Regions from separate parts of the Homo sapiens genome. Here all the other regions are linked to region 2. Evidence: fine-mapped expression QTL. A gene starts in region 2. Each other region holds a variant in brackets. All regions are shown on one strand. Distances are between the middles of the regions.

What was found. PIP is the estimated chance that this variant, and not a neighbour inherited with it, causes the effect. A credible set is the group of variants that fine-mapping cannot tell apart.
Region 1: its variant is the best candidate, but not a certain one, in a credible set for the expression of AHR in testis (GTEx, PIP 0.72).
Region 3: its variant is the best candidate, but not a certain one, in a credible set for the expression of AHR in whole blood (INTERVAL, PIP 0.77).

Annotation. Positions count from the first base shown.
Region 1 is chr7:17,400,162-17,410,876 of GRCh38, forward strand. The region is part of intron 1 of LINC02888 (long intergenic non-protein coding RNA 2888); the gene reads left to right. Among named protein-coding and RNA genes, the nearest start is that of LINC02888, 31 kb to the left of the region's middle. RefSeq lists an enhancer at 5,254-6,453. The variant C/T (reference allele first, on the strand shown) is at 3,414.
Region 2 is chr7:17,293,854-17,304,584 of GRCh38, forward strand. It overlaps AHR (aryl hydrocarbon receptor), which reads left to right and starts at 4,799. Exons shown (of 11, transcript NM_001621.5): 1 at 4,799-5,476. The coding sequence starts at 5,412. It overlaps LOC101927609 (a long non-coding RNA gene), which reads right to left and starts at 5,467. Exons shown (of 12, transcript XR_007060234.1): 1 at 5,207-5,467; 2 at 1,313-1,407. RefSeq lists silencers at 5,074-5,223, 5,274-5,383, 5,424-5,473.
Region 3 is chr7:17,221,300-17,232,030 of GRCh38, forward strand. LOC107986772 (a long non-coding RNA gene) reads left to right here. Exons shown (of 3, transcript XR_001745107.2): 3 at 5,435-7,512. All of the region lies in intron 6 of LOC101927609 (a long non-coding RNA gene), which reads right to left. Among named protein-coding and RNA genes, the nearest start is that of AHR, 72 kb to the right of the region's middle. The variant T/C (reference allele first, on the strand shown) is at 6,615.

The DNA.
Region 1 (10,715 bases), 110 kb after region 2:
GGTGTATGGAATAGTCTTAAGGTAAAAGGAAACATTTTCAACTTCTAATTCCTTTCTGGACATATCCTTTTAGGAGGAAGTTCTAGTGATGAGATCAAAGTATCACTTTTCCCCCAGAGGACAGTAATATCACTTTCCCTGTGAAAAACTAGTCCAGTCCATTTAAAGACAGGATTTTAGGATATATTATTCATGACTGTGCTTTTAAAAACCTAAGTGTGAGTTTTATAACTCTAAATTCAAAATTGTCTCTATGGTTTCATTTTTAGGAGTTCTGCACATAAGCTGAGCAGATCCTTTGAGTCAAAGCCTAAAATCTTAGACTTAGAGGTCAGGCATCTTCCATTTGAACCCTGGCATAGGCACGTATTTGCTGTAGGACTGGCCAGACTGTCAAATCTGTGTCTCAGTGTCCTCAGTCTTTAAATGGGGATAAAAATAGCACCAGCCTCAGATTGTAGAAGGATTAATCAAATTACCTCATGCATAACACTTAGCACAATTCCTTCTACATTATAATCACTTAATAATAAATACGAGTATAATAACAACGAAAGTAACAAATTATGTTGAAATAAATTATTTAACTCAGTACAGGCAGGGCCTAAAATGTTGACGTGACTTTCAAGTGTCTTGAGTTCTTAAGGAGAATGTAATCCCACTGCGATGGGACTGAGCCATAAACAGGCAGAGCTTTTGCTACTCCTTTAGAGCCCACCTCAGTATCCTACAGCAATCGAAGAGACAGTACAATACCCACAAACAGCAACTGAAAGCAATTTAAATCTCTAATGAGGTGTCCTGAAAAATTCTAGAGGAACATTCTACTTCTGATGCAGAGAAATACTTCCTAAAATCTTCTTTCCCTGAGACTCCTATAATTGTCTCACCAGAAAAGGAGTTGCCTTCCCTTTGCTCAGTTTGACTCAAGCTCACTCTTAGTGCAGCCCACATTGGCTTCTGTCCTCTTTCTCTTTGCACAGAAGCAGCTCTTCTGTTTATTTACTGACCCTCTGCCCTTTCCAGTCCAAAGCAATCAAGTCACAGTGGACTAATTTGAAGTCTTTTTCTCCCTTTCATCTATTATGTAACATCTACACAACAAAATTTGAGAAACATAGAAATCAGAGCTTGAACCTGGATGCCTAAACCAACATCCATCTCAGCAGGTAGAGTAGATGGTGAGATTGTGATGACCATATGTTTTTTCCTGAAGCATACGTACTACTATTTAAAGCATGGGTCATTTTCTCCTAAGACAGAACTTAACAAAACATGAGCCTTTAAATAAAGTATCAATGTATGTATAAATGAAGTCATCTCACTAGCATCATTCAGTTTGAAGAATACATTCAATGATCCAGAGCCAATATTAAATCTATAATATGAAATGGGCAGAAAAAAAATAAGACTCCAAATTATCACCTTCCCAGAAACCAACCTCTCTCTCACCAACTGCTCAGAAAAGAAGAAAGCAAATATAAAAGAAATATGACCATTTTGTTATTTTGCTCTTACATGGAATTGAAATTAAGCTATATGGAAAATTCACTAAATTCTACCGATCTATCTTTTTAAAAGGGAAATGTTAAGCAGTTCTGAAAGAGTGCACCCAGCTTCCTTTCCAAAGGATACTGCTAATGGAGTTGAACACACCCTTCCTGTCACCCCAGGTGCTAAATATGTGGAAGTTGGGAATATCTAAATGCTTGGAGATCCTGAAGATACTCCCTGAGGTGGCTATAAAAAGACTACGCTTGGCTTCTGAGAATGTAGTGGCAGACACTTTCACTTTATTTTATTTTACTTTATTTTATCATGGGAGGAAGTTTTATTGAGTCACCATCCCCCTACACCTCAACTTCTCTTTTTTAAAAATATGTGTAAGTTTTTTCTACTTCTGTCTCTCAGGAACAGGTTTTTGGTGGTTCAGAAATTTCTCCCACTTTTACCTGACTGTGGGCAACCTCAGCAACAGAGGCTCCTGGAAATATCCTCCACCTATTTTTCTCAGATGTGAGAACGGTTGACTGGAGTTATGAGGGGGAAGTGGCTGGTGCAGAAAGTTGCCAAAAGGGTGATGGAAAGTTCTTTACTGATGAAAAAAGAAAAGAATAATAATTCATATTTATCTTTTGACCAAGACAAGATAGGAACAGAGGTGCCTTTGCTTGCTTTCACCTCAAGCAGGAAGTGAGAGTCCTATTAGCCTCTGGGTTCTGGGAAGTCAACGATTTGGGGTTATTTTTCTTCCCGCCCATTTCTTTACCTTACTCATAGGTTTAATATTGACCTCTGTCTTTATCACTGAATCTGTTTTTCAAATTGAGCAATTCTCAATTTGTCAGATGATTTATTTTTTACATATACATGAATGTTTTGTTGAAACAAGACTTTCAGCGGTATCAGTCATGGGGGAGCTTAGCTGTGAACCCGGAGGTGAGAGTAAAGTCTTAGAACAAAGAGGAATTCGAAATTACGGAACATTTTTAACTTCTTTACTCAGTGGTAAAGAATGGAACATCTTTTACGTCAAACTACTGAAGTTGTGGGCAAAATTACAAGCGATGATTATGCAGGATAGGTTAGTTTTTGGCCATTTTAGGCTTTTCTTGATTTTATGGAGTAGTCTGAAAGGAGTGAGCTGGTGAGAGAATTTACTAGGTGCTGAAGCAATGAGAACTGACAGCTGATATACAGGGGAAGAGCTCCGTTTCAGTCACATTGAATTTGAGGTGCCTTTAAGAGGAGGTAATCAGGAAGAATTTGCAACAGTTCTTTAAACCCCGGTGGATATCAGAGCTAATCATGTATCCGTGGGAGTTGTCAGGGTAAATCTGATGACTGATGCCAAGAACCTCACATAAGGAGGTCAGGTGGCATGAGAAGAGATGATGAGTGAGAACACAAGCTGAGAAAGAACAGTATTTAGAGGATGGACTGAAGGACAAGTGGGGGAGTTTGAAAATGCGGAGCTGTAGAGGTAAAGGACACTGAGTATATCTGCTCTGGTCCTTTGGGGACTTTCCACAGCACTAGCTTCACCTTGGTTGCTTGCCAACTGCTGAGACAGTAAGTCCAGATTTTAGTATTTGACCCACGCTGCCTTCTCCAGATCATGCTCCTTGATATTACCTCTGAATTTGCTGAAAGAAAAACATTTCCACTCAAATATCACTTGAACATGATTTATGAGTAAAATGAATAATATTTTACTATAAAACATACAGAGGTGAGTCTCATAACGATATTCAGGGTGGCCCCAAGCTATCTTCTTTTTTTTTATTTTTAAAGTTTTCAAAATATTTTCAGGCCAAGTGTGGTGGCTCATGCCTGTAATCCCAACACTTTGGGAGACTGAGGCAAGAAGATCACTTCAACTCAGGAATTTGAGACCAGTCTGGGCAACATAG[C/T]GAGACTTCATCTCCACTTAAAAAAAAAAAAAAAAAAAAAAAACTCAAATGTGGTGGCGCACGCCTTTGGTCCCAGCTACTTGGGAGCGCTGAGGTGGGAAATCTCTTGAGCCTGGGAAATAACGGCTACAGTGAGCTTTGATCGTGCCATTGCACTCTAGCCTGGGTGGCACAGTGAGACCCTGTTTCAAAAAAAGTGAATATATTTAAGGTATACAGCAGGATGTTTTAATATAGAGAGTTAAATGACTGCTATCGTTAGCTAATTAACATACCCATCTTCTCAGGTAGTTACCTTGTGTATGTGTGTGGTGAGAATACTTGAGATATACTCTCCTATCAAATTTCATGTATATAATATAGTATTACTAACTATGGTCACTATGCTATACATTAGATCTCTAGAATGTATTCACCCTACATACCTAAAATTTTATACACTTTGACCAGCACCTTCCCTTTCTTCTCTCCCAGCCCCTTCCCCTAATAACCACCATTCTACTCTCTGCTACTGTGAATTCAGCTGTTTGAGATTCCACATCTAAGCTATCTTCTTTATTAGCCATTGCTAAAGAGTCACTGATAAGCCTGCTTCCTGTCTGTTGGGTGCAACTAAAAAGCAGACCCTTGATCTGGCATTCTGGTGGTGAAGTGACTTATAGCTCTAGAACCTCCCAACCCAAGCCATCCTACGGCAGCTGTTCTGAAGTTGACTTTTATAGCTTCTACAGAACTGTAAGCTTGCCGTTGAAAGTGGCACCTAGCCATTTATTCGCCAGTAATTATAAGCAAATGAATCAAATTTGAAGCAGGAGTGTAATAAAATCAGTAATGGATAGGATTTTAAGCAACAGGCAAACTTCTAAGAGGGGCTGGCACCCCTTTTTAAAAATAGATTAATGTCATCTGCAAACAGAGACAATTTGACTTCCTCTCTTCCTACTTGAATACCCTTTATTTCTTTCCCTTGGCTGATTGCCCCGGCCAGAACTTCCAATACTATGTTGACTAGGAGTGGTGAGAGAGGGCATCCTTTTCTTGTGCCAGTTTTCAAAGGGAATGCTTCCAGTTTTTGCCCATTCAGTATGATACTGGCTGCGGGTTTGTCATAAACAGCTCTTATTTTGAGATATGTTCTATCAATACCTAGTTTATTGAGAGTTTTTACCATGAAGGGGTGTTGAATTTTATTGAAGGCCTTTTCTGCATCTATTGGGATAATCATGTGGCTTTTGTCATTGGTTCTGTTTATGTGATGGATTACGTTTATTGATGTGCATATGTTGAGCCAGCCTTGCATCCCAGGGATGAAGCTGACTTGATTGTGGTGGATACGCTTTTTGGTGTGCTGCTGGATTCATGTCCTTTGCAAGGACACGGATGAAGCTGGAAACCATCGTTCTCAGCAAACTAAAACAAGAACAGAAAACTAAACACCGCATGTTCTCACTTATAAGTGGGAGCTGAACAATGAGAATACATGGACACAGGGAGGGGAACATCACACACCGGGGCCTGTCGGGGGCTGGGGGCTAGGGGAGGGATAGCATTAGAGAAATACCTAATGTAGATGACATAGGTATTAGGGTAGATGGGTGCAGCAAATCACCATGGCACGTGTATACCTATGTATACCTATGTAACCTGCACATTCTGCACATGTACCCCAGAACTTAAAGTATAATTTAAAAAAAGGTAGTAAGATGATAGATTTAAACCCAAATATATTTGTAATTACATGAAATGTCAGCAAAGTAAGTACTCTAATTAAAAGCTAAAGATCGCCAGATTGGAAAAAAAAAAAATATGCTACTTTCAAGAGATTTTCCTTATATAGAAGAATATAGAAAAGTAAAAGAATGGAAAATGTATAACATGCAACCAATATGAAACAAAATAGAATTTAAGGCAAGGAATATTATTCAAGATAAAAAGGGAAGGCTGGGTGAAGTGGCTCACACCTATAGTCACAGCACTTTGGGAGGCCAAGGCAGAAGGATTGCTTGAGTCCAGGAGTTTGAGGCAAGCCTGGGCAACACAGTGGGACCCCATATCTAAAAATAAAAAATAAAAATAAATTTTAATGAAAAAATAGATTAATGGCAGAGCAGACTTGAGAGACAAATGGTTCTTGCAATAAGCGACAGCGGTATTAAGATGTATGTTCAGGATCTCATTGGATAGAGGATTAGGAAAATTTCTTTGTTTTAATGTTTCTTAGTAGACCTTTTTAGAAAGAAGGGCAGTGTGAAAATAATATCCTAAGAGCTCATAACGGCAAATGCCAAGGTTTGTGTGGTGTGTGTGTGCGCGCACGTGTGTGTGTGTATGCATGCCTGTGTAATATTATGAGATAATACAAGGGAGAAGGGTGATTCATGGAAAGAGTGGACGAAGGTTTCGAAAGCTACCGAGTGAGAAAAGGTCTGATGAGTATTTATTTAGGAATTATGATGTCACTGGTGACCTTAGCAGGAATAGAATCTGTAAAATGCTAGGGGCAAAACGGGGTTACAGGAAGGTGAAGAGTAGACAGAGACTTCCTTTTCCAACAGTATTGGCAGAGTAAATATCCTGAAAATCTATCCTGCTACAAAGCACCTAAAAGTAGTAGATACAAAATGAAAAACACATTTAAATGCATGCCTGTGTTGGAAAGAGTAAGGGAAACCATTGGAGTTATCAGAGGCTAAATGTTCTGGGAAGGACCAATTCAGAGAATTGTAAGCAGTGAAATCATCTATGAATTCCAGGGGCCTGGGGCTTCAGTTGTGACACAGATCAACTCAGGTCGGCACAATGGGAGAGTTAGATTCAAATTCTGGAACCCATAATGAATTACATCTTCAGTGAAACTGCAAATTAGGAAAAAAATAAAAATTAAAAACAACCTGCCCTGAATGAAGAAACAAATAAAACTGGTGAATTTTTTGAGCATCTTGTGAGAATTTATAAGTCGGAGCTAGTCCTCAAATGGCCCTAGGTTAGGGTCTGTGATGGTTAATTTTGTGTGTTAATTTGACTGGATTGAGGGATACTTAGATAGCTGGTAAAGCATTATTTCTGGGTGCATCTGTGAGGGTTTTCTGGAAGAAATCGGCATTTGAATCAGTGGACTGAGTAAGGAAAATCTGCCTTCAGTGTGGATGGGCACCATCCCATCAGCTGAGGACTAGAATAGAATGAAAATGCAAAGGAAAAGCAAATTTGTTCTCCTCCTTCAAGCTGAGATACCCTTCTTCTCCTGCTCTTGGACATTAGAACTCCAGGTTCTCCAGCCATTGGACTCAGGCACTTGCACCAGCAGTTCCTGGGTTCTCAGGCTTTTGACCTTGTGCTGAGAGTCATACCATCAGCTTTTCCGGTTCTCCGTCTTGCAGATGACCTTCTCAGATTTCATAATTGTGTAAGCCAATTCTCCTAATAAATCTCTCTTATATATCTATCCATCCATCCACCCATCCATCCTATTAATCTCTGTACAATTCTGACTAATACAGGATTCCCTATCTCACCGACTGCATTGTCTGAAAAAGACTCCTGCCACCCTAGATTTGAAGCTTCCTTAACTGCCTGACAGAAGCAAATAATTTTCTCTAGATGAATCAACTGTCAACCTCAAAGAACTTCCATTTATAAAGTCCCAACATTATCCCAGAATCTAAAATTACAAAATGAAAGAAGAAATAGGAGTCAATTTCAGTAGAAACAATAAACAAGAGAATCAGCCCTAGATAATGAACTAGTTACATTTATACTACAAAACTGGTATTTAAAGTTAAAGAAAAAGAATAAAGTTGGAAAAGAAAGTCACATACATGAATGAGGAAGAAGTGACTATAAAGATGACTAGGCAGTTCTAATAAAAACTAAAAATAGGACATTCAGAAATGAAAATTACAGTACTTAAAATTAAAAATTCAATAGGTATACTGCTTAGCCTATTAGACATGACTGAAGATAGAATGACAAACCTAGACTATAAAGCTGAAGTAGTTGGCTCTAACAGAACACAGAGAAACAGAGGGAGTATAAAAGCAGTAGAGAGACATAAAAAATATTTGTAAGATACAACATATATCCAAATCAGAATTCCACAAAGAAATATCAGAGAAATGAAAGAGAGATAATTTCAGAGGGAAAATGTCTGAGCAATTCCAGAATTCCAGATGACATGAATCTTCAGATTTAGAAAGCAAAACAAATCCCAGTCTTCACTGAACTGTAGAACACCAGTGAAAAAGAACTTTTAAAAATCCAGAGAGAAAAACATTGCCTCCAAAGAAATATTTACAGTGATAGCTGAATTCTAAACAACAACAATGGAAACCAGTAAACTGTGAGATCATATTAAATCCATGAAAAAATGCTTATAGCTACATATCTAGAATTGTAAAATTGTATGTCATTTTTAGATTAAAAAAGATCAAGAGAGTCCTCACAAACATCTTTTCCCTACAGGAGCTTCTAAAATATATATTTCAGAAATAAGGAAAATGCTTTCAGAAAAACTGAGTTCAAGAAGAAAGGGTGAGCGAAAATAAAGTGGTAAATGTGAGTAAATCTAAACAAATGTTAAATATAATACTCAATAATAATGTCTAATTTTAGAGTATATTAATTTTTTATTGCTGTGTAACAAAGTACCACAAATTTAGTGGCTTAAAACAATACAAATTTATTGACCTTAAGTTTCCATGTGTCATGAGTCTGGGCACAGTTTAATTGGGTTCCCTGATCTGGTCTCACAGCCTGTGTTCTCACCTGGATGGCCACTGAGGAAGAATCCACTTCCAAGCTCATTCAGGTTGTTAGCAGAATTAATTTCCTTTAAGCTCTACACTGAGGGCCCAGACTTTTTGCTAGCTGTCAGCTGCAGGCAGGCCACCCCATCCCATAGACCTTCTCACAGTATGACAGCTATTTTCTTCAAGCCACCAAAAGGATTTCTCTCCAGGATGTATATGATAAGTAATTATTAAAGTGGCATCCTATCACTTCTATCATATAAAATAACTTAAGGGAGTGATGTCCCATTGTCTTTGCCGTATTTCATTGGTTAGAAGCAGGGCACAGGTTCTGTCCGCACTTAAGCAGAGAAAATTGTGCAAGGGCGTGACTCATAGGAGGTCACTTTAGGGCGTGCTCACCGCAGAGAAATTGGAGAAACAAAAACAAGACTAAGTCAGAAAGGTCATGCTCAGAGTTAAAGCATGCTAAAGTCCTTGTAGGAAGTGCAAATAGACACAGATTAATTATAAACTGTATTAAGCTGGAAAGGAAAGTACAAAATAAGATGGTAGGAATTAATCAAAATACATCAGCAATCTTAAAGACACAAAACATTTTTAAATAAAAGGGTAAAAAAATATATTGTGGCTATATTATTATCAGATAAAATAGACCTTCAAGTAAAAAAGCATAATTCGAGTTAGAGGATGACTACATAATGACAGAGTAACTCTCTAAATTACCATCTACCAAATTTCACAATTCAAAATTGTATATAGTAAATATTAGCAGAGATTCCTGAATCATCGTGTGTGCTTTTGAGACACAGTGCTTGGCAATTCAGAAGTTAAATAGACAAAATCAAAAACGTATCTTCTCACAAAAAAACAGTAATACATAAAAAATGTTAAGACCACAACATACTTGAACTAATTGCTGTACGTAGAATAAAGCATGAAACAATTAGAGACAACAGAATTAAGCACATGTGACACTGACCATATAAGTATATAAGAGCCACATAATAAACTATAAAACTAGTGTTAACCAATATGAAAGAAATATTTCATAATATGTGGGCCACGTTCTCTAATCACAATAAAGTTTAAAACCAGTGATGAAAACATTATGAAAAAGCTCATATATTTAGAAATTTAAAAACAAACTTCTAAATAATACATCAAAATAGCATTCAAATGGATATTAGAAAACGTTAGAACTAAACAATTATGAAAAATTCTATATATCAAAACATGGAATACAGATAAAATAGTGCAGAGAGAAGTTTATAGACTTTCAGAAGGGATGAAAATTAATAAAGTAATCATCAATGATTTAGAATAATATTGAAAAAATAAATCCAGAAAGCAGAAAAAGAAGATAACAAAAATAAAAGCAAAAATTAACAAAACATAAGAATATGGAAAATTAATGAAACTACCTCTGTTCTTTGAAGCAGTTAAAATCTAGATGTCTCTGACAAATTAAGAAAAAAGGGATAGATACAATATCGGCAAATCACAAGAAAACAACTTCAGAAGGACTAGAATGATAGCAGAATGTTATAGACAACTTTTAATTATAATGACAACTTGGATAAAATGGGCACATTTCTAGAAAGTTATATTTTGCAAAAATTGACTTATGAAAGAATTAGAAAACCTGTGCAGTCCTGAATCATTGAAATTAGTTAAACATTGAAGTTAAACTATCTTTTCACATAAAACTGAAGTCCACAGTTTTATAATAAATTCTGCTAAATATATTTAATGAGCAAATATTCCAATTTAACATAAACTCTTCCAGAAAATAAAAAAAAAAAAGACACGTTCCTCTTTAAGTTGTTTAATGAGGCCATGATTGTTATCTTGATTCCAAAATCCAATACAAAATATTAGCAATCTAAATGTAGCAATGCATTAAACACACACACAAATTACTAAATTGACTTTATCCAAAAAATAAAAGGCTAATTAGCATCAAAACTATTAACATAAATTAACAAAATAATGACAACTTATAAAATCATCTCTTTTTGCAGATGAAAGTCAATATTCATTCACATTAGAAACTCTCAGTGAACGTGGAATAGAAGGAAATTCTCATAACTGGCAAAAGAGTAAATACAAAATTCTCAAAGGAGATATCATATTCATTGGAGAGGTGGTAAAATCATTTTCTTTAAAGGAAGGAACAAAAGAAGGATGCCCACTATTACCATGCATATTCAACATTGAACTAAGGATGGCAGAAACCACATAAAAAAAGAAAGAATAAGAAAAGAATAAACAAAATTCTCATTATTCGTAGAAGATATTATTGTTTACATAGAAAAACCAAAGAAGGCTACAGACAGATTACTCAAATGTATAAAAGAGCTTAGCTAAGTGACTAAGTGATGATATAAGATCAATACACAAAAGTTAACAAACAGAAAATGTCATTTGTAGAACCAAACATAGATAATTAGGGATTAATTTAACAAGAGATGATCAATCATTTCATGGAGAAATTTTTACATTTTGAAATATATTTTAAAAGATCTAAATTGAGAGATACACAATGTAATAT
Region 2 (10,731 bases):
TTGTGCAATTTTTCAACATATGGCAAAGTTGAAAGAATACCACAAATGTTTGTATACCTTTCATAATTGTGTATATGTGTATGTGTGTGTATATATATATGTATATATGTATATATATATATGTATATATGTGTATATATATATATGTGTGTATATATATATATATATATATACATATATATATATGAATGTTGCAGCATGCATTTCCTGAGAATAAGGATCTTCTCTTTATTCTAGAGGTATATACCTCTACAGGTGATAGAGGTATATAACCACAATACCTCTATCACCTGTAAAATCCCGATTCCAGGACACAACATAGATAAATTAAATAAAAATTTTTGTAGTGGAGCCAAGGATCCGTAATTTTTACAGTTCTCAAGTGACTACAATATGCAACAAATGTTGAGAACCACTGTCCACACATTAATTAAATTTGTTAAATATTTTCAGTAAAGAATACATTTTGTTTCTTAATATGAATAAGAATGATAGCCTTTTAAAGTTTAGCAAATCTAAATTATATATTTTAGGTCAGCATTTTACAATAATTTACATTTCCTTAAGCTGTTCTTATCAAGTTAATAATTTTCTTTGTTAAATAAATGTATTTTATCTTAATTTCAGTTTCTTCTATATCATGATTTAAAATGCAGAAAGTATGTATTATGTAGTTTTCAAATATATTTATCTCCAAAGTTAAATGGATTTTAGTAAAAATGATATTTATACATATATATTTTAATAAAATGTTTAATAAATTAGACATGAATCTTAGCATGTGAAACATAAAACTTTTTTATAACTTTCCCCATAATCAAACTTCAAATTCGTAAGAATTAAAAGTCCGGAAAGAAAGAAATCGAAATCCAAACTTACTGCATGTTAACATTTTAATAATGTACTTTCATGTGTTAAAAACCTAAATGTTTCTTGCAACAAAGCATTATCCATAAGTGAATAAAAATAATTTTGACTAATAACAAATTATTCCTATCTTGTAGTTTCTTTGTCAGAATTAAGATTAGCATTATCTATTAATTACTTCTCTGTGGCTTCTATGACATTGTTGTATCCAAGCAAGTAAAGAAGACATTAAGCATTTAGAAACAGCCCTTAGATGTCTATGTCTGTTCTTCAGTGTTAGGAGTAAAAGCAAGCAATGTGTAAACTGATTATTTTTAATAAATGAATCAGAACAGTTCAAAGTCAGATAAGTTATACATTTTAGACTGGGGCAGAAGTCACAAGACCCAGATTCTAGGCTATGATTAGCAGGGCACTTGATCTCTCTGGGCCTGAAGTTTCTCACCTGTTAAATGAAGGATTTAGTTATGCCAAAGGTCCCAAACTTTCTCAGTTCACAGCATTCCTAGTGTCTCAGTAATTTTTTCATGGTGTTGCAAGCTAAAAGAAACACCTAACAGTTCCATTTATTAAACAGTTAAACCCAAACTTATGTTTGTCTATCCTAACAACTTAGTAGCTATTTAAAAAATAATATACATTAACATTTTTTATTCTTAATGGGATGTGCACATCTGTTGGGCACTTCATAACTTCTCAAACTTAGGAATAAACTTGGAAACCGCTACCCTCATTCCTGTTCTACAGTAATTTTCCCATAGTCCTTGTGTTTTATTACAGCAATTTACAAAAACACAGCCTCACAAAGATACGATGTCAAAAGGAATGAAGTACAATTTAATGTGTAGAAGTTCTGAACTACCTCAAGATAGTGGTTTGCACGGTGTCCAACTGATGTCACTGTGTTGGCCTTGAAAATTTAAAATATCCCATGATAGTGCCCCTGTGAGTTTGTTGTGGTGCTCCTGGGGTGCCTCAGTACATAGTTTAGGAAGCATGGACTACCCTCTGTAAAATACTTCATATAGCTACAATGTGTGTTGTAAACTGTAAAAGACAATTCTGAGGGCCTGAAGTAAGGAGCTGCAGAATTGAAGAGGAGATTAAAAAGTGATACATGTTCAGTCTGCATGAAATTCCCCTTCCTCCCCAGGTCACCTATAAAATGCCTACCTATGCCTACCTATAAAATGCCTACCTATGCCTCAAAACTCAGCTCAAGCTCCCTCAGGGAGGTTACCAAGTTACCCTTACCAAGTTAAATCCACCTATTATACATTCTCACAGTATTCATTTCACAGTACTTGTCCCAGTTGTAATTATACATTCATTTGTGTAACTATCTGGTTAATTCTTGTCTCTCTCATTAGAATGTAAGCTCTAAGAGGAAAGAACATGTCTGATATCACTACTGTAACCCACAGTGTCTGGTATATTATAGGGGCTAAAATCTTGCTTAGTGAAATGAACTGTGATAGAATAGGTTTAGCATTCATTTTGATTATTTTCCTTTATTCAAGAACAGCTGATATTTATAATAGCATTCCTAAAACATTTTTCTCATACTATTTCGCAGGAGAAAGAAACCCATACACATACAGCTGCATCTGAAACCTCAGAAACTAAGCTCAACCCAATTGATTAAAAGGATGTTCTTTGGATAAGGTAATCAAATGTTCACCGACTCTTATAGCCAAATTAATTATTATGAGATAAAAATCACGTAACTACAAAAAAAAAAACTGCTCACAAAAAAGTTTTTAAATCTTAGCAGATGGACACAAACCATACTTTGAGAACCATGTTCCACAGTGCCAATACAGGAAGTTTCTAGATAATGGCAGCTCATTTTTTAAAAATGGCACTACACTATACTGTATTCACATGCCAGCAAAACTGTTAAGGTAAGTTCATGTCACTATTAAAATAAAATGAATTCTGGGAATTTTGTTGATATTCAATTTTAATCTTAATTATGCAAAGATCTGTTACTTAACTAAGACTATGTAACATAATATAGCATATGACTTCTGGATAATGAAAATAATCCTAAACTTAACCATAAAAAAATAAGGGTATGAAAGTCAAAATAAGGTAGAAAATGACTGCACCAAATAGCCAACAACCTTAAAAAGGGTAGGATTTTTTTAAATCACTAAATTAAGATTGGTTCATTGCATTTAGTACATCTCTTTTATGAAGAGGAGTTATAAGCTACAGAATCAATAAATTATGTTTTGATATAAATTTTTCACCCTTAAAGTTCCTAGCTAGGAGGAAATTATTCTTTTACACTTACACGTTTTAGATAGAATGGCTATAAGTAAGCACAGATAAATGAAGAAATGAAAGAGAAGGGAAAAATAGAGATGGTTGATTCTGCCTCTGCAATTGCTAATTCATAAACATCAAACTTTCCCAGTGTACACTGTCTTCTTTGGGAATTTGCTCCATCTTTTTCCTTAAACTGAAAGGTGGCTTACTGAGGCTATCACTTTCCTAAAGGTCTCCCCAATACTGCCTAATTATTTTCTCTTATCACAGGATACAGGGTGGATGTCCATCTACTTCCTTGTTGTCACTTCCCAGATCACTTTCACTTTATGCTCTTCTAAAATTAAAACAAAGATCATCGACCACAAAACACAATTGTTCTTTTGTAGCTCATGCTAGAATACCCTCTTTGTTACATCTCCTTCATTTTTCTGATCCAAAATTTAGTAGCCTACTATATCTCACCCACTGTCCTTCTTTCCTCCAGCTATGGTAGAGAACTGCTCCTCCAACTTTATGTACATTTGAATCACCTGGGAGTTCCTGTGAACTTCGGGTTCTGATTTAATAAGGACACCCAAAGAGTCTGCATTTCCTGTAACTCTCAAAAGAAGCTGTGGAGTACTCTGAATAGCAAAGCACTGTAAGTGCTGTTTCTGTTAGTATCTAATCTATTAGTCCTAATCTCCCATTTATGCTTTGGCACTCATTCCCTCCTGCTTTCGGTATCTTAATATCTATCATTCCTTCACTCTTCCCTCAGGTTCCCTACATAGTTTATCTCTACCCCCTCTAAGCCGCTCAGTATCGCCCATTAAAGAACTAAACCAAAACTAGAAAACCCTCATTTAACCCTTCACTCCCCCTACATACAATCTGATGTGTCTCTCATCCACAGCTAAACTTGGAAGAAAAATTGCCTGCTTGAGGATGCCATTTTGTTATCTTCAGCTCAATCCTGTACCCACTTCAATGTTATTTGCAGGCCCATTACCCCAACACTGCATTCACGAAAGTCATCAGTGACTACACATTGAGAAAACAAGAATGACATTTTCAGTTCTCAACTAATTTGAATTTCTCAACAGTATTCAATATTGTTAATTACTCCCAATATTTTTCCACATGGTCCTCCATGACACAATACATAATAGTCCCCTTATTATCTATATTCCTGTCTATTGTAAAGACTTCCCCCGCACACCAAAAAAGGTCAAGGAAACTCCTAGCCTTCAAGTCTCAACTCAAATCTGGCCTTCTGAAGCCTTCCCAACTAGGAAAATATACAGTCCCATTGGTTGTCTACCAGTTGTCTACCAGTTAATTGTAATTCTTAGCCACAAGTTAGCTGACCCACCGTCTCTCAAACAGGTGAAGTTAAGCTCAATATTTGGCATATCTTGATATACTTTGTACAGTCTAGCTACAATAAGTTTGCCTATGCACGAAGATGGCTACCGGCGGGGGGGGGCGTCCTTACGTCCTACGTCATCACGTGCCGGGATGAGGGTGGGGCCCTCAAGGAAGACGGAATGGAATCCAGATGGGCGGGGGCAAGCAGGACGGGGCGGGGCTACGCGGGATCTGGGCGGGGCGGGGCCGGTGAGGGGTCGGGGGTGCTCCTGCTATTCAGCCGGTGCGCGCGGCGGCGGGAGGCAGTGGCTGGGGAGTCCCGTCGACGCTCTGTTCCGAGAGCGTGCCCCGGACCGCCAGCTCAGAACAGGGGCAGCCGTGTAGCCGAACGGAAGCTGGGAGCAGCCGGGACTGGTGGCCCGCGCCCGAGCTCCGCAGGCGGGAAGCACCCTGGATTTAGGAAGTCCCGGGAGCAGCGCGGCGGCACCTCCCTCACCCAAGGGGCCGCGGCGACGGTCACGGGGCGCGGCGCCACCGTGAGCGACCCAGGCCAGGATTCTAAATAGACGGCCCAGGCTCCTCCTCCGCCCGGGCCGCCTCACCTGCGGGCATTGCCGCGCCGCCTCCGCCGGTGTAGACGGCACCTGCGCCGCCTTGCTCGCGGGTCTCCGCCCCTCGCCCACCCTCACTGCGCCAGGCCCAGGCAGCTCACCTGTACTGGCGCGGGCTGCGGAAGCCTGCGTGAGCCGAGGCGTTGAGGCGCGGCGCCCACGCCACTGTCCCGAGAGGACGCAGGTGGAGCGGGCGCGGCTTCGCGGAACCCGGCGCCGGCCGCCGCAGTGGTCCCAGCCTACACCGGGTTCCGGGGACCCGGCCGCCAGTGCCCGGGGAGTAGCCGCCGCCGTCGGCTGGGCACCATGAACAGCAGCAGCGCCAACATCACCTACGCCAGTCGCAAGCGGCGGAAGCCGGTGCAGAAAACGTGAGTGTCCCGAGCGCGTCCTCATCGCGGGGGCTGGGCGCTCAGGCACGCGGGTGCGGGAGGCAGCCCCACCCCGCCCCCAAATCCCTGCGATCCTGGGATTAGGTCCATTCCCGGCACTGCCCGTGGAATCGAGGTTTGGAGGCCGGCTGGGAGACAGAGGACTTGGATTCTCCCGTTTTCAATGATTGCATTTTAAAAATTGTCCTCCCACCCATCCTCTTCCCCCGCACCAGTGCATACACACCCTCTCACATTTGCAACTTTGTTCTTTCTGATTTGGTCCTGATTTGTTGACAGCTCTGATCTGCCTTGGGCTAATGGATTAGTTAGTATAAACCTGTCTTGAAATCTCCTTCCACTTTTCATATCCGCATGGGTTAGGTTAGAGGACGGTCTTAATTCTCATTCTTCGTAGAGTTTGGTAAGGCGAGATGTTTTAAAGAGCTAAACACATGCTGACTTTTACGAAGGGGCTGAGTGCCTCTAAAGGTACTTTTTGGTCCCCACCAACTGGCTTTGTGTTGCGCTCATATTTACTTATTTGGCAGCAATTTTGTAGCGCTCATCGTGACCATATCGGTAAAGTGGATAGAAGTGGTAGCAGGTGGGAGTGGATGCAACGGACAGGATACGGTGGAGGATTTGTATTCTTCAGACATCTTTTTCGGAAGCTTGCTTATCACTTTTGGGGTGGCTTTAGGGTCTGTAAAATAAAAGATTTAGAACTGCATTTGAGAGAGGTTTTCATTCTTAACATCTACCTCTAATTCTTTTCCCCTTCAAAGTTTTCTTCTAGTTGAGTGAGTACAAACTTGCTTTTGTCGTTGTCGGTTGATTTTGGTGGAATATTTGTGTGAGATGGCCAATTTTTTGTGTGTGTCAGAAAAAACTATCCGTGCTCAAAACATTTCCTGTTGTGAGGTGGTTGTATTCATGTGTTTATTCCAATTTTTTTATTTCTAGATCTCTGAGTTACTTTACCTACATGTGTTTCAAGTTTTCGTAAACAATTTTAAGAACTCTTAAACGTCTTCTCAGACCAAATCAGAAGTGTGCATTTTGCTTAGACTCCAACTATCACTAATGGGAACCAGAAAAATAACACTTTAAGATTTACATTTAAAACCAGTTATTGGTTTAAAGTTTCATTCTAAAATTTTAGTTTCCTTTCAGAATTTCAGTTATCATAGTTCTTCAGAAGTATACTTATGAATTGGCATTAACAGAGGATAATAATCTATAAATAGACTGATGAAAATTTGGAAGTTTTATGGTACAGTGTGTCTTAAGGGAATATTGTCAAACCAGCAGTTTTCTACCTTGGCAGTTTGAGACATCGGTTATTAATACTTTTAATTTTGTAGAATGGTTTCTTATATTAAAGTATGTTTGTCTTATTTGACATTGTCATTGATGGTTAAAGTTGGGAGGCATCCCAAATGTCTGTTCTATGTGTTTATTAATATAATAATACACTTAGCATCATATATAATAGGGGTGTCATGGGTTTTATGTGTATGGTGAGAAAACATGAAGATCTCCCTGATGTGTTTTTAAGATACTGGGTTTCAGTTAGGGTGTTATCAAAGGACCTGGATGGCTTTGTAAACAAAAACAAATGCCATAATTTTGTATTCATTACACAGTTTAACATTTATGGATTTTGGTTATTTTGCGTAAAATGTACTTTTTATTAGATTATCCTAATATTATACTTACTTAGTTTTTAATATACTTGTATTAATTTCTTATAATATAACAAAAGTATTTTTTCCATTCACCCACATTTTGTTAGCATAGATGTTTATCAGATCTCTGCTGAGCACCGTATATTGCTTCTAATCATACAGATGCCTTAAATATTACCAGCTTGCTCTGTAAGAATAGGCTAGTGCTGGCATTTTCATTATCAAGTGAAAGTGTTTATATAAATTATTTTTACCTGAATGAAAAATTGTTAACTTTATAATGCAGTTAATCAAAGTTTATTTTAGAAATGAAGTCATTAAACCTAGTATTAAATTTGAGTTTTAAAATTAAACTACCAGTTTGTGGCCTAATGAGCCCCAAAACATGCCAACATTGGGGAAAATAGATCTTGTTTTGAGCTGAAAATGCTATCCAGACCTACTTAACTTTGACCTCTTAAATGAGAGCCATTTTATTTTATTTACAGATAAAATATGCTGTAGCATTATTATAGGACTGTTTAAAAAGACAGCCAATTAAATATAAATTTTATGGAATATAAGTATTCCATAAAATTTTGGAGTAAAGTAGGTGACAATTGTAACCTGAAGCTCTTTCAATCTTGAGTTGAATTTATTAAGAAAAATCAACCCCCCCTAGTGGCGGCTCTCACATTGAAAATTATCTTTATTAGTAGGAAATACATTTTAAATGTGTTCAATTTAATCCCACTGAAGTATCTCCAACATAGTAGACTCTCAATAAATATTTCCTTTCTTTTTGGAGTAATGAAGGTTGGGAAATTAAAGGCTCTGAAGCAACTTTACGTCCAATTCATGTTCCTACCTTCAAGAAGAAAATATCAAAGATAACTTTCATTATAGAATCTACTATAACTTTGCTTAGACTGTTGCCCCATACTTAGTGACCCTACTCAGAAAAAGAGAACAAATCCTGTGTTTATTTTATTCTCTTTGGAAATGAAAGTGTTTATTTATTTTGTCTCATGAAGATAGTCAAAAAGGCCATTATATAATTAAATAGAATGTTTTTCCCTAGTGATAATTTTGTATATATTTTTGTATTTTTAAGGTTTTAATCATAAAGAAAAAGTTGTAATGGATTTCAGCTTACCTGTACATAGAAAGTTAGCACTGAATGTTGGCAAATAATAGGTGTTGAGAAAAGGGGATCTACACTTTAAAATGATACCAGCTGTAGTGGTGATTAAGCCATTATGAAGTGTCAGAACTGGAAGTCACTTCTGAGCCTTAGCTGATCTTTCTTTAAAATGCATACTGATAAAAACTTTTACTTTTATTAACATATTAATAATATAAAAGCATTGTCTTGCTATTCTTTTTAAATGTCATGAATTTCATATATGTAATACTGAATTGTATTACTTACATAATACTCATTAAATGTTTTCTATAAATTTATGGTGCCATTTTTAAAATAGCATCTAAAATAAAAGAATGGGTCTTTTCATTTACACAATTATTTCTCCATCATTTTTCTTTCCAATAGCTTTAGATAGCATATACATAGTAGTTATGGACACTTGCTTATTAGAACTATGAAATGAAGTAAGTGAAAGTGTTTAGTTATAGGTAACATTAAATGGCAAAAAGAGGAAACAGGTATAAATTGAAAGCACTGGATCTAAACTAAAAAATGAGGTCTAGTTTCTTCACTGTTACAGATCTGGGCAAGTTTCTTGACCAATAAAGCACGACAGTCAGCACCTGTACTGCTACTCTCACAACTAAAACAGAACAAAAAAAAAATATATATATATATATAAACTGTGAAGACTGCTAAAGATACAAATGAAACAGAAACGTAAATTCTATTCTTTTAGCTTACATTATCACAGAACAATCAATTCGCCCGTGAAACAGTAAGAGGCAGTATACGATTATGTTCTCAATTACGGCTACGGCTGAAATGTGCTACTTCACTGGTGAATAAATTTACATAGTACGTGCTTACTCATGTATTTAATTAAGACAGTTACTTAGAAATAAATACCATACAAATCTTTTACAACAGTACCTTTCTACTTTTATGCTTCTTTTAAAATTGATATTTTGCTAGTGGCTTAATATGACAAAAGATGACTGTTTATTAGCACTTATTCTGATACAAGCTTGCCCAGTTCTTTACATCATTTTCTTCATTTTTATAATAGTACTAAAGAAAGGTAGTATTATTTAAGTTTATAGATAGGGAACTGAGATTCAAATTCAGAGTTGCTCAGATAATGAGAAAGAGTTTGGATATTGGATCCCAGGTCTTTTTGCTTCAAAGCTTGTGTTCTTACTGACTTGTGTTCGTACTGTCCAGGTGAACAGATTCAGTGATGCATACAGTACAGCCATATCCTAGGGATTTTCACTGTTTCTTCTCAGATAGTGTTATGGCTGAAATAAATTATTTGTCATTTCCCATACATAATTTGTACTTGCTCATCCCCATACTTGTGTTTTTACGTCCTTTCCTCTTAGAGTCTTTTCTCCTGTCTTATTGATTTGCTACCCACCTCCCTTCCTCTTTAAAACATTGTTTTTAAAGGCTGCATAATACTCTGTTGTACTAATATTCTATAATTTTTTTAACTGTTTTTCTTTTGGGAGGAAATTTTATTCCCAACCATTTAATACTTTAATATTTCAGAGAATACCCTTGGGACGTGTAAATTTTAATGCAAATTTATTTTTTTAGGAAAAAATTCCTGTAAGGGAATTTTGGGATAGAAAAGTATGTGTTGTTTTAAGGTTGAACCAAATCGTACACTCCAAGAGATAGTATCAAATTAAGAAAAATTTACTAATTACATTCCATCATCAATCTGGGGATGTGACTATATCTTTGCATTTTTGCTTAAAAAATATTATTGTCAATTTCATAGGCAAAAGTGTGGTTGGTAATTAAAGTTATATGTTGGGATCATGGTTATGTATAGGAGAAGCACTTGTATTTGCAGATTTTCTACTTAGGGTGTCCTTTACGTATTCATTTGTTTTGTCTTACATTTTTCAGTCATCTTTTAGTTTGTTCTTTTTACTTCTTTCTATTGAAATATTGTTTTAAAATGTATTCCTATTAAATAATACTGGCAGATTTTAAAAGTCAATTATATATGTGGCACATCTTAAGTATAGCATGTGAGGCCTTATCTTTTGATGTCTTACTGTGGTAGTTAGGGATTTTAGTGCTGTCTTGTCTCACTTTAACCTTTTTCACCTTCCTGCATCCTCCCAATATATTTTATCACAATTTTGGATTATATACACATTAGTGTTGTATTATTTTTGACTGTATATTGTTTACTGTTTAGCTAAGTAATATACTGTGATTATATTTGCCTTCCTGTTCTATGCTATTATTGATTTCTTTTCTACCATCTTCCTGTTTATTAGCATCTGGGTTTAGCTGTCACTTAGGTTCATCGGAGACAGAGTTTGTGTTTCTGGCTCCTGCTTTTCTTGTTTTGGTGTGGTTTTCTGGAAGAGAAGGGTAGTTGCAGAAAGCTAGATATTCTGCCGTCACAGAAACAG
Region 3 (10,731 bases), 73 kb before region 2:
TAACTAACCTGCATGTTGTGCACATGTACCCTAAAACTTAAAGTATAATTAAAAAATTACATTTATAGAAGATGAAAATAATATTAAATCCATAGATTAAATTCAGTTTTACTCAAAAAAAAGAAGAAAAGGAAATGAATGGACTGTAAACACCCAAGTTCCTGAACAAGAAATATAAATATTCACATTATTCAAGTTAACAAATAAATGTAATAAAAGCTCATAATAAATATTTTCCAATAGAAAAAAATGTACAAAGGATCTGAATAAGCATTTATATATCTAAATGCTTATTTATCTTCTAAATAAGATATATGTGTGGTAAATACATGAAAAGTTACTCAACATCATTAGCTATCAGGAAATGCAAATCAAAACCACAATGAGCTACCAGTTCATACCCACTAAGATGCTATAATATGAAAGATAATTACAAGTGTTGATAAGGAAGCAGAGAAACTGGATCTCTCATAAACTATTGGTGAGAATGTAAAATGGTACAGACACTTTGGAAAACAGTTTGGCAGTTCCTCAAAATGTTAAACATAGACCCAGCATACATATGTTTCAAGATAACTGAAAACATATGTCCATACACCAGTATGTTCATGAATATTCTTAGCAACATTATTCATAATAATTCAAAAGTATAAACAACTGAATTATCCATCACCTGACAAATGGATGAAGAAAGCATGGTATATGCAAACAATGAAATATTATTCAGCCATTAAAAAAGAGTACTGATATACGCTATGGCATGGATAAACCTTGAAAATATTACGCTAAGTGAAAGAAGGCAGTCACAAGACTATATATTGATATGAAATGTCCAAAATAGGCAAATCCATAGAGATAAAAAGTAGATAATAATTGCTTAGGACTGGGACTTGGATTGGGGGTTGATGGGAAATGTGTAGCCATACCCTGTATGTATTAGCAAATAGATACAAGGGTTCTTCTTTGAGTGATAAAAACGTTCCAAAGTTGATGGTGTTAACAGTTGCACAAGTCTGTGAATATTTAAAAAACCAAGGAATTCTATGCTTTATATGAGTTATATTTTAATGCTGATTTTAAAAATTAGTATGATTATAACTGGGAAGTTTAAATAGTACCTTCAGCCCATATGGATTCCATAAATACAAAAATAATACCATTTTATTATAAACAAAGTAGGAAGTCCTAAGAAAGAGAATTTTAGACTTTGAGAGAAATTTAGAAAATATCTAGTCTTATTTCCTAAGTGCCCCATTTTTTAGAAAAGCAACTTTAACAACAGGGTGGTGGTTAAGTCTATGGATTCTTGGGATGACAGACAATGGGTCTCCATCACTTGATGAGTCTCCATCACTGATGACTGAGTCATTCTGGGAAAGGCATATGAACTCGCAGCCTCAATGTTCCTATTTACAAGAAGGGGGAGAAGGCAGAATATCGCTTATAGTGTAGTTATTATAGGATTACATGAGATACACATACACACACATGCTAGCACAAGGCCTGAAATATAAAGAGTGCTCAATGAAATTTAGCTAATGTTATAAAAGTGTCTTCCTCTACCTCAAGTTACGTATGTAGTGGAGCTGGGATAGAAAAAAATTTGGTTTTCTTCTCTTCTATTCTCTTTCCATTGTATCGTTATACCAAAGATTGAAAAATACTAAATTATTCTACCCAGAAAGAATGTGAACAGCTCTGATGCCAAATCACTTTAGAGTAATTGATGTTCTATGATTTTCAGAGTCAACAGACAGAATGAAGGTGGTCTTAAGATTTTAAAATGGTCTTGTGGTACTTCTGTCACATCTAGAAGTATAGTTTCGCTAAGACAGTACTTACACCCTAGCCCTGGGGATCATTTTTCTTTCCTCTGAATTCTCACTCTTGTTTGACATTCTATCTATTACATGTGCTAATCTGATAAGATGACGTAACATGACATCTGCATGTCTTAGGTAATCAAATCTGAAAAACAACTTTAGGAAGCAACTAGCTTTCGGTATTTATCCACAGCTTATCCTCTGAGAGAAACAGAGAATAATAGCTGCAAATATTTCTTAGAGTTTTGATGGCATTCTGCATGGTTATAAGGAATTGGCTCCTCTCATACATATGTTTTTGAGGTTACATGATTAATTTGATTATTTACCTTGGCAAATGTTATCATAGTAGCATTTTGATTAGCAGCAAATAAGTTATTTCTACAGAGGTGCCATGTGAGATTATCTAGGTGATATTACACAGTAGGTAGGTATTAGGAACACTTTATAAGTGTGCACTTATGCACTGCTGATTAGATTACCTTTTGATGCAACTGTTCTGAGGGGGATTTTGGCAAAAGATCTCAAAAGCCTTCAACCTTTCACTCATCATTTCCACTGCCAAGGATCTGTCTAACAAAAATCACGAAATATATTCCCAAATATTTGTTTATTAAAAGTTGACCAAAAGATTATATAAAATCATGACATCTTGAAAACAACTCAAATGTTCCATCATGATGACTTAGGAAATAAAATTAAACATGTCCATGGTTTGTATTTAAAAGATTGTTTATAATACCTTATGTGAAGATTTTACATAATATGTAAAATACTGTAATGGGTTTCAGAATAATATTCATAATAGGGTTGCAATAATTTTAAAATAACTCTGAATACATTCTATGTGTGCATATATGTGAATACATATATGCATTAAACTTTATCATTTGGACTTGATTTGCAAAGCATCATTAGTTTTTTTACTTAACCTCAATAATTCCTTTAGACATGTGAGCTCTGCAAATCTATGGACTTTGCAGCAGAATGCCTTTCTTTTTTTTTTTTTTTTATTATACTTTAAGTTCTAGGGTACATGTGCACATTGTGCAGGTTAGTTACATATGTATACATGTGCCATGCTGGTGTGCTGCACCCACTAACTCGTCATCTAGCATTAGGTATATCTCCCAATGCTACCCCTCCCCCTCCCCCCACCCCACCACAGTCCCCAGAGTGTGATATTCCCCTTCCTGTGACCATGTGATCAGTTCATGTCCTTTGTAGGGACATGGATGAAATTGGAAACCATCATTCTCAGTAAACTATCGCAAGAACAAAAAACCAAACACCGCATATTCTCACTCATAGGTGGGAATTGAACAGAATGCCTTTCTTTAGAAACCACTGCTATCAGAATAGGAACTGTGAAAACAAATGAGAATGCTCTCATACAGTTATTTTATGGTCTATCAGTATTAATGAATTGTACTCAATTCACCCTCAGTTTTTAGAGTCTGAAAATGTAGATACCATGAATGTTTATGCAAGAGTTTTTTAATGAGTATTTTCAGTGAGACCTATTATTGTGTTAATTGAATATAGAAATCCTTTATATTAATCCTTGTAAAATATAATGATTTTTAAAACACAGTAGAAAAAGTGGAAGGTCTTGTCTGCCTGATGTGCTCCCAATGTGATGTGGTATATTTGAAAGAGATCCAGTTGTTATCAAGGTACTTTTCTTGGTATTCTTCTACCTGTCATCCACTGCTAGGCCTTAAGGCTTGGCAATCTTTTAACGTCTTACAGAATTATAGGACATATATCAGACTGCATATGTACTAGATATGACAGACAGTGGTCATTCTCTAAGTCTTGTATATATTTCCTGTTTCTGTTTTGAGTAAAATGTCCAATACCACTGGGAATGCCTATTTAACATTGCTAAGAGAACAAGAAAATTTATCTTCTTTGGATCTAACCATCTGAGCCAACTCTATTTTTTCCTAACCACTTTATTGAGGTGCAGTTGACATATGAAAAGCTGTGTATATTTAAGGTATACAACTTGGTGAGTTTGGGAATAAGTATACAGCCATAAAACCATTACCATATTCTATGCCATCAACATATCCATCACTTCCAAAGGTTTCCTCTCATTTTACTTATTATTATTTTTGTGATAAGAATGCTTAGTATAAGAGTTAACATTTTAGCAAATTTTCAGCATACAATACAGTATTGTTAACTATAAGTGCTGTGGTGTATGGTAGCTCTCCAGTACTTACTCATCTTGTAAAACTAGAGCTTTGTACCTTTTGACTAACATCTCCTTGTTCCCTACCCCCAACCATCCCCTGACAACCACCATTCTATTCTCTGCTTCCATGAGACTATTTTAAATTTGCCATAAAATTGGTATCATATAACATTTGTCCTGTTCCTGGCTTGTTTCACTTAGCACAATGTCCACCACATTCATCTGTGTTGTCACAAATGGCACAATTTGCTTCCTTTTCAAGGCTGAATAATATTCCATTGTATAGGTACATATATATGTATATACCACATTTTCTTTATCTATTTCTGTAAATGGACATTTAGGTCACTTCTGTGCCTTGTCTATTGTGGACAGTAGAATTAAAATCAGAATCTTGAAGAGATTATTACCACTCCCATGTTCATTGTAGAACTATTTGTAATAGCCAGCTCTATTCTTTTTCCAAAAGAAAGCTGAACTCATGTGAATACATAATGCAAAAACTGGAAAGTATAATAATTATACAAAGAAATAGAGAAGCTAAAAAATCGGCATTCAGTCATTGCTTTTATCATCTCATTGGTAAATTCCTTCAGTATGATGGTGAGGTGCCTTATGTTACCATGTTCTTGCACAAGCAAAACAGTGACAGTGGTCAACAATGCCCACATACACTGAACTGATGGTATGCATTCCACTATCAGGTAGCTCTTCCTGTAAGTATTACTCTAACACTACCCATGGCTTCTCCCCATAACCTCTGCCACTCTGAGGTCAAAGTAATTCCTAGTAGGCTGCTTCACAGAAACTATTTTGACAACTGCTTAAAAAAAACCATATATATATATATATATATATATATATATATATATATATATACACACACACATGTATCTCCTGATACACATATATATATCTCCTGATATATATGTATATCTCCTGATATATATATATATGTATATCTCCTGATATATATATATATATGTATATCTCCTGATATATATATATATATATATATATCTCCTGATACATACATATACGAATATATATATATGGAGAGATATATATATATATATAGAGAGAGATATATATATATATGGAGAAATATATATGGAGATAAATATATATCCCTTTCCATATATATATATCTCCATATATATGTATATCTCCATATATATCCACATATATATATATATATATATATATATATCAGGAACACTATGCCAGCAAATTAGTAAACTGAATGTTTCTTGATTTTTTAAAAAAAAATTTTCCTTCCCCAGAAAGAGAGTTGTATCAAACAGTAAAATGGCTATTTTCTTTTCAAATAATTTACATTGATTTTTTGAAACATCTTTAAAATTCACATTAAATATCCTAAGAGTCGATGGTGTTTTTATTTTAACAGAAAGATTAATGATTCACCCGAAGTTCGACATTATGTATAACTCAGAACTCTTCACAGCAACTTTCAAATAAGATTATCAGAACTTCTTGCATGGATTGGCACAGGACTCTGGGATAAATTATCCTGGTAAGAATTTTGAGACTTACTACTCTGGACAAGAAAGATAAACTACAGAGGATGCTGGCTTCCTCCCCAAACTGAACACTATAGATGCTACATAAGAGAGAGAGGAGAAAGATGGGTCCACTGAACTAACATGATAACTGGATTTCTGCAGGGAGGAAAGGCAGACGTGGTTTGTTGTGAAGGAGACAAGCAGCCTGCAGGAGAGACAGGAATCAGGTAACACTGTTGGAGCGAGGCTGGCAGAGGAGGTTTTAATTCTTTAGTTTCATTTTTTGGTGAGAGAGAATAGAAGCATCCTACATGGCCACCTATTGTCCAAGGAATAACCTCAGTACAGTCCCAACAAGAGTAACGAGATGACGGAAACAAGTCCGACAAGGGAATACTAAATTATCCCTACTTCTCCTGTTCTTGTCCCCACAATTGCTCCAGGAACTAGTAGGTTATCTCCACCATCTTCTAAGATGATTATTTTAGAATTACCCGATGAATTTAATGGCAATTCCTAAGGGACGTCATTTTCCTGGTAGCATGTAGTAGCAATGTCTGAGGCATTCACGAAAACTGTAGTAAGCCTCAAAGGAAGCTTTAATACCTTCCCAAAAGCGCAATATCACATTGTCTGTATTTTCTATGGTAGAGGAAAACTTGAAATTAATAAAAAGTAGCCAGAAAAAGAAACTTTTTGTTCTTAAAACTAATACGCTTTCCTCTGTCTGATATGTTTATTTTTATTGAGTATAATTTGTTCATATCCATCCATTAATTTTCATGACTGTATGATACCTGGATAATATTGCATAAGGATATACTAATATACGTGAGAATGAAGTGGTTTAAGAAACCCTCTTCCAAAGAGCCTCAAGTAACCAGCAGCCTGGGCGACAGAGCGAGACTCCGTCTCAAAAAAAAAAAAAAAAAATAGAAGTTTTTATTCATAACAATAATGCAATCATTTATTAAACAGCTATTATGCTTAATTTGTTTCTTATGTATTTGTGTCTAATTCTTAAAAACAACTTCTCACATTCAGAGTTAAGTAACTTGCCCAATG[T/C]CACATGGTTAGTAGAGGTTGAGTCAGGATTTGAGCTAAGTTTTGCAAGATCATGAAGTTCACTCTGTTTATAGCAATAACCATTCAAGCTGAAGATAAATGTTGTCTAGAAGTGGATTTGTAAAGAATTATGTATGTCTGGTTGAAAATCATGTTAAGAACGTTAGTATACTTGTATTTTTAGAACTATACAATTCATTCATGAAACAATTTTTATTGAATGTTTACCATATGGAAGACATCACAGAAAATATTTACTGATAAAAAAGGAAAAGCTGTAATCTCTAAGATTTCAAATTTAACAAACAGCTGTCTACAAATAACAGAAATGAATCTCCTCAGGAGTCATCTTGAAATTACGCTAAAATGCAATTTTCCTTTGAAACTGGAAAATCCACTAAATGAGACAACATTTGGTAATTGGTATTCTTCAGCAACTAGTAGGCTGCATAGTGGGGAAATGAAAATAGTAAAACCATGAAAGAATAGAGGGAAAAAAGGCTTATAAACTAAACCATCAACATAAATGGCTCTTCTACCTTTTTACTGTTGGCATGTAATGTACTAGGCATGGTGCAATTTGCACTCTTTAAAAGTCATTTCTAAACAAAAACCTTAGAGACTTTATCTTTCCTAGTAAACACTTATGATTATAGGTGGGGATAAGAGACAAAATTGTTTATCAAAGAATAGTCCTTTTATACAGACAGATGAATAAGAAGTTTCCTCTCATTGAACTTTGAATCAAACAAGTAGCTTAAATGTAAAGAGTTTAATTACAAACATTAATTCCAATACAGTCTCGGACATTTTAGCATATACAGTTTCAAAGAAAAAAAACTTCTAATTCAAAACTATTATATATAAAATAAAGCAAATATTTTCTCATTCATTTCAAATATGGATGTTTGCTTAAGTCTTTGGTCTAAGTAATATGAAACGGTATACTAACTCATCTACCGCAGACACTAAATATTTTAAACTATTTGATCTTGAAATAATATAAAACAATATTTATAGTTGGAGATTTTATTTTCCTCATAACATGAGAACAAGTAATTCTTTTGATCATTATATGCCATGTTTTCTTTACTAATTTAGAGATTTCTTCATTTATCTTTAGATTTATGTCTCTATTTCACAATTGTTTAATTGTAATACAGACTAGTTTATGCGTATATACTCTTGATTATGTTGTCAATTGTATTTATCATTTATCAAAGATTATTTTTCATTGGTCATGTGTCAAAATATTTCTGACAAGAGACAGAGAATGGAAATATAAGGGTGTAATGAAGTGAATTTTTATGACCAGAAATACAAATCCATGAACCAAAAATGATTCATATGTGTCTGTGATCTTTGAGAATTAGGCTTCTCTTATTCGAAGATAAAACCTATACCAATAAAATATTCTTACAGAAAATGTAGATTTAAAGCACTTTACTTTGAACTCTGCACAAAGAATATGCTTTAAAATGTTGAGCAACTGACTGAGATGTAATTACATTTGACGTATTAAACCTCTCTAGGAATTTTCATTATGATCTTTCCTTTGGGCAAATTGAGCAAGTCTGACCTTTGGCACATTCAAGTTTGAATCTTATGTCATAACACATTATTTGAAAACAAACTAAAAATACAATAGAAACATCTCATCTCATGATGTCTACATGAAATGACATAAAATAGTTAAAACTCAATTATCCATAAATAAGCATTTCAGCTTTCCACCACCAAAACTAGAATACAAAAACTGGTTTTGAATAATTATTTGTTGTGATGGCCTCTCAACTGCCTTCCCACTTTTGGGCCTATAAGGCAGGTCATACTCCTTAACATTGCATCATAAAAGTCAGCTTCAGATAGCGACAACATTGAAGGACATTGTTTGAGACCCCTCAGCCACCAGTCCATTTGATCTTAAGCTGTTTTCACCCTCTGGTTCTGCTTTCTTGACTTGACATCCAGCGCGTATCCCTCTGTTTTGTCTTTCTCTTACGGATTTGTTGCTTTTTTTCCACTCTTTTGGCATTTGGGCATTATGGGCTCTGTCTTAACCCACCCCTTTAGTCTTAGCTTCTCTTACTGTTTTTAGGGGGTTATGCTCCTCTACTTCTAAGCCCTGCAGAATAGCATCCCTTCTTTGGTTTCCAGAAAAGTCATCACCATGACCATCATCATTATAACTAATGTGCTGTCTCATGTAATACTCATAACAACCTGATGAAGCAGGTACTATTATTTCCCCATTTTGCCTTGGTCAGTTGTAACTACATTTGAATGGCTGAAAATGTCTCATCGCAAGGATCTTTCTGGGCATAATGCCTTTGCCAGTGCTTGGAGACCTTGATAACATTCTTGGGTGTCTGGCTGTTACTTTCCACTGCTTGCTACATGACAGATATGAACTTAAAGTGTTCTAATAATAAAATCAACTTGGCTAGTGCAGGCTAAAATTTGGGGCTTAGGATAAGCCCAATTCAAGGCAGTGTTTCTAAACTCTAAAGGCAATCTTGGTCATCAGCTGCTACTCTGTTTCCATTAGTATATGTGACCTCACTAAAACCATCTATCTTCAAACTAGGTATAGACTTAGAGACAGTAAAACCAGGAACTTTTAACAAAAGGGTACCCTCCCCACCCCAATCAGTATTGTAGGTACCTGCCAATTTTGACAGCAACAAGTCAGGTCGGGTTGGGTAGTCCCTGAACAGAGCATGAATACATGTTATTTTTAGTTCTTAGAATACTATAATCATGTCCAGGAGCTGAGTGAACCACTGACCTTTCCTAAAGAGTTAAATTTACTGAGGAAAATTAGGAAAAGAGGGAAGAGGGGTGAAATTTGAAGTACAGATAAGGAAACTTAAGAGTCACTACATATCCTTGTTTGTCCCAGGGGGTATTCCAATCCAGAACTGTTCCTAACATGTCTAATAGTTATGATTAGTTGAAAAGCAGCCAGGGTCATAGAAGTTGGCCTGGAAATGGTGCTATGCAAGCTATCCCAAGTATTTTCCATCATTTTATTTCTTTGCTCAGATTTTCTATATTTTTATTTGTTTTAAGAGGATTTGTAATTGATTTTTGGTGTGTTTTATGACAGCTGCTTTAAAATCTTTGTCAGATATTCCAACATCTAATTTATCTTGTTATTATTGGCACCAGTGGATTGTCTTTCCTCATTCAGATTGTAGCTTGCCTGGTTCTTGATGAATGATTTTCTGTTACATCCTGGACATTTTAGTTCTTATGTTAGGAGACACTTGATCCTATTTACACCTTCTGTTTTAGCAGGCAGTTGTCCTGTTTAGGTTCTGCTTGTCAGGTCTGTCCTACTTTTATTGGCTTTAGTTCCAATGAAAGTTTAGTTTTCTGAGCTCTTGCAATGTTATTCTGGTTGAATGGTTCTTCATTTTTCGCATGCTGTTGGGCTTACTGCTCAATCAATGTTCTGGTGTCATCTGTGGAAGTGGAAGGTACTTCCTTGGGCTACCTACTGTCATTGGGCAACCTGGAGAGGGCCACTGAGGAACAGAGAAAAGCGAGGATATGCCATCTTGTTCCAGAATTGGGATCCAGCCCAGGTCATCAATCATCCCTCTAAGCGTTCTTGAGAGACTTGACTGCCAAATGAACAAGGATGTTGTCCAGAAAACACTCAGGTAGAAGAACATCTAGATGACAACTTTCAATAGAGTATTGTACTCCTTTTCTTAAAGTCAGCCTTCTATTTCTCAGTCTTACCTTGTGCTTTCTGTAAGGCTCCAGCTTTGTGAAAACCCAGGCTCCATGGAGTTGGCCAGGAGGCCTGCTACCAGGGGATTGGGTAGAAATTCCAAGCAGTAACTCCACTGAGGCCTTAGAATTCCTGGCACAGATAAGCTCTCTACTTTCTTCTCTTTGAAGAAAATGTTTATCCCATAGAGGAAATAGAGGGTGTTTTTTATTATTTACAAAACATTTTATTCCAAGATTACCTGTCTACACACCACTCAAAAACTACTTAGTATTCCCGATGCTTGTTCAAAGATCCTTCTATTCCCCAATTATATCTCAGCGTGATTTTTCTTCATTTTCTGGCCCTAATCCAGCACTTGACTCAATTGTGCTA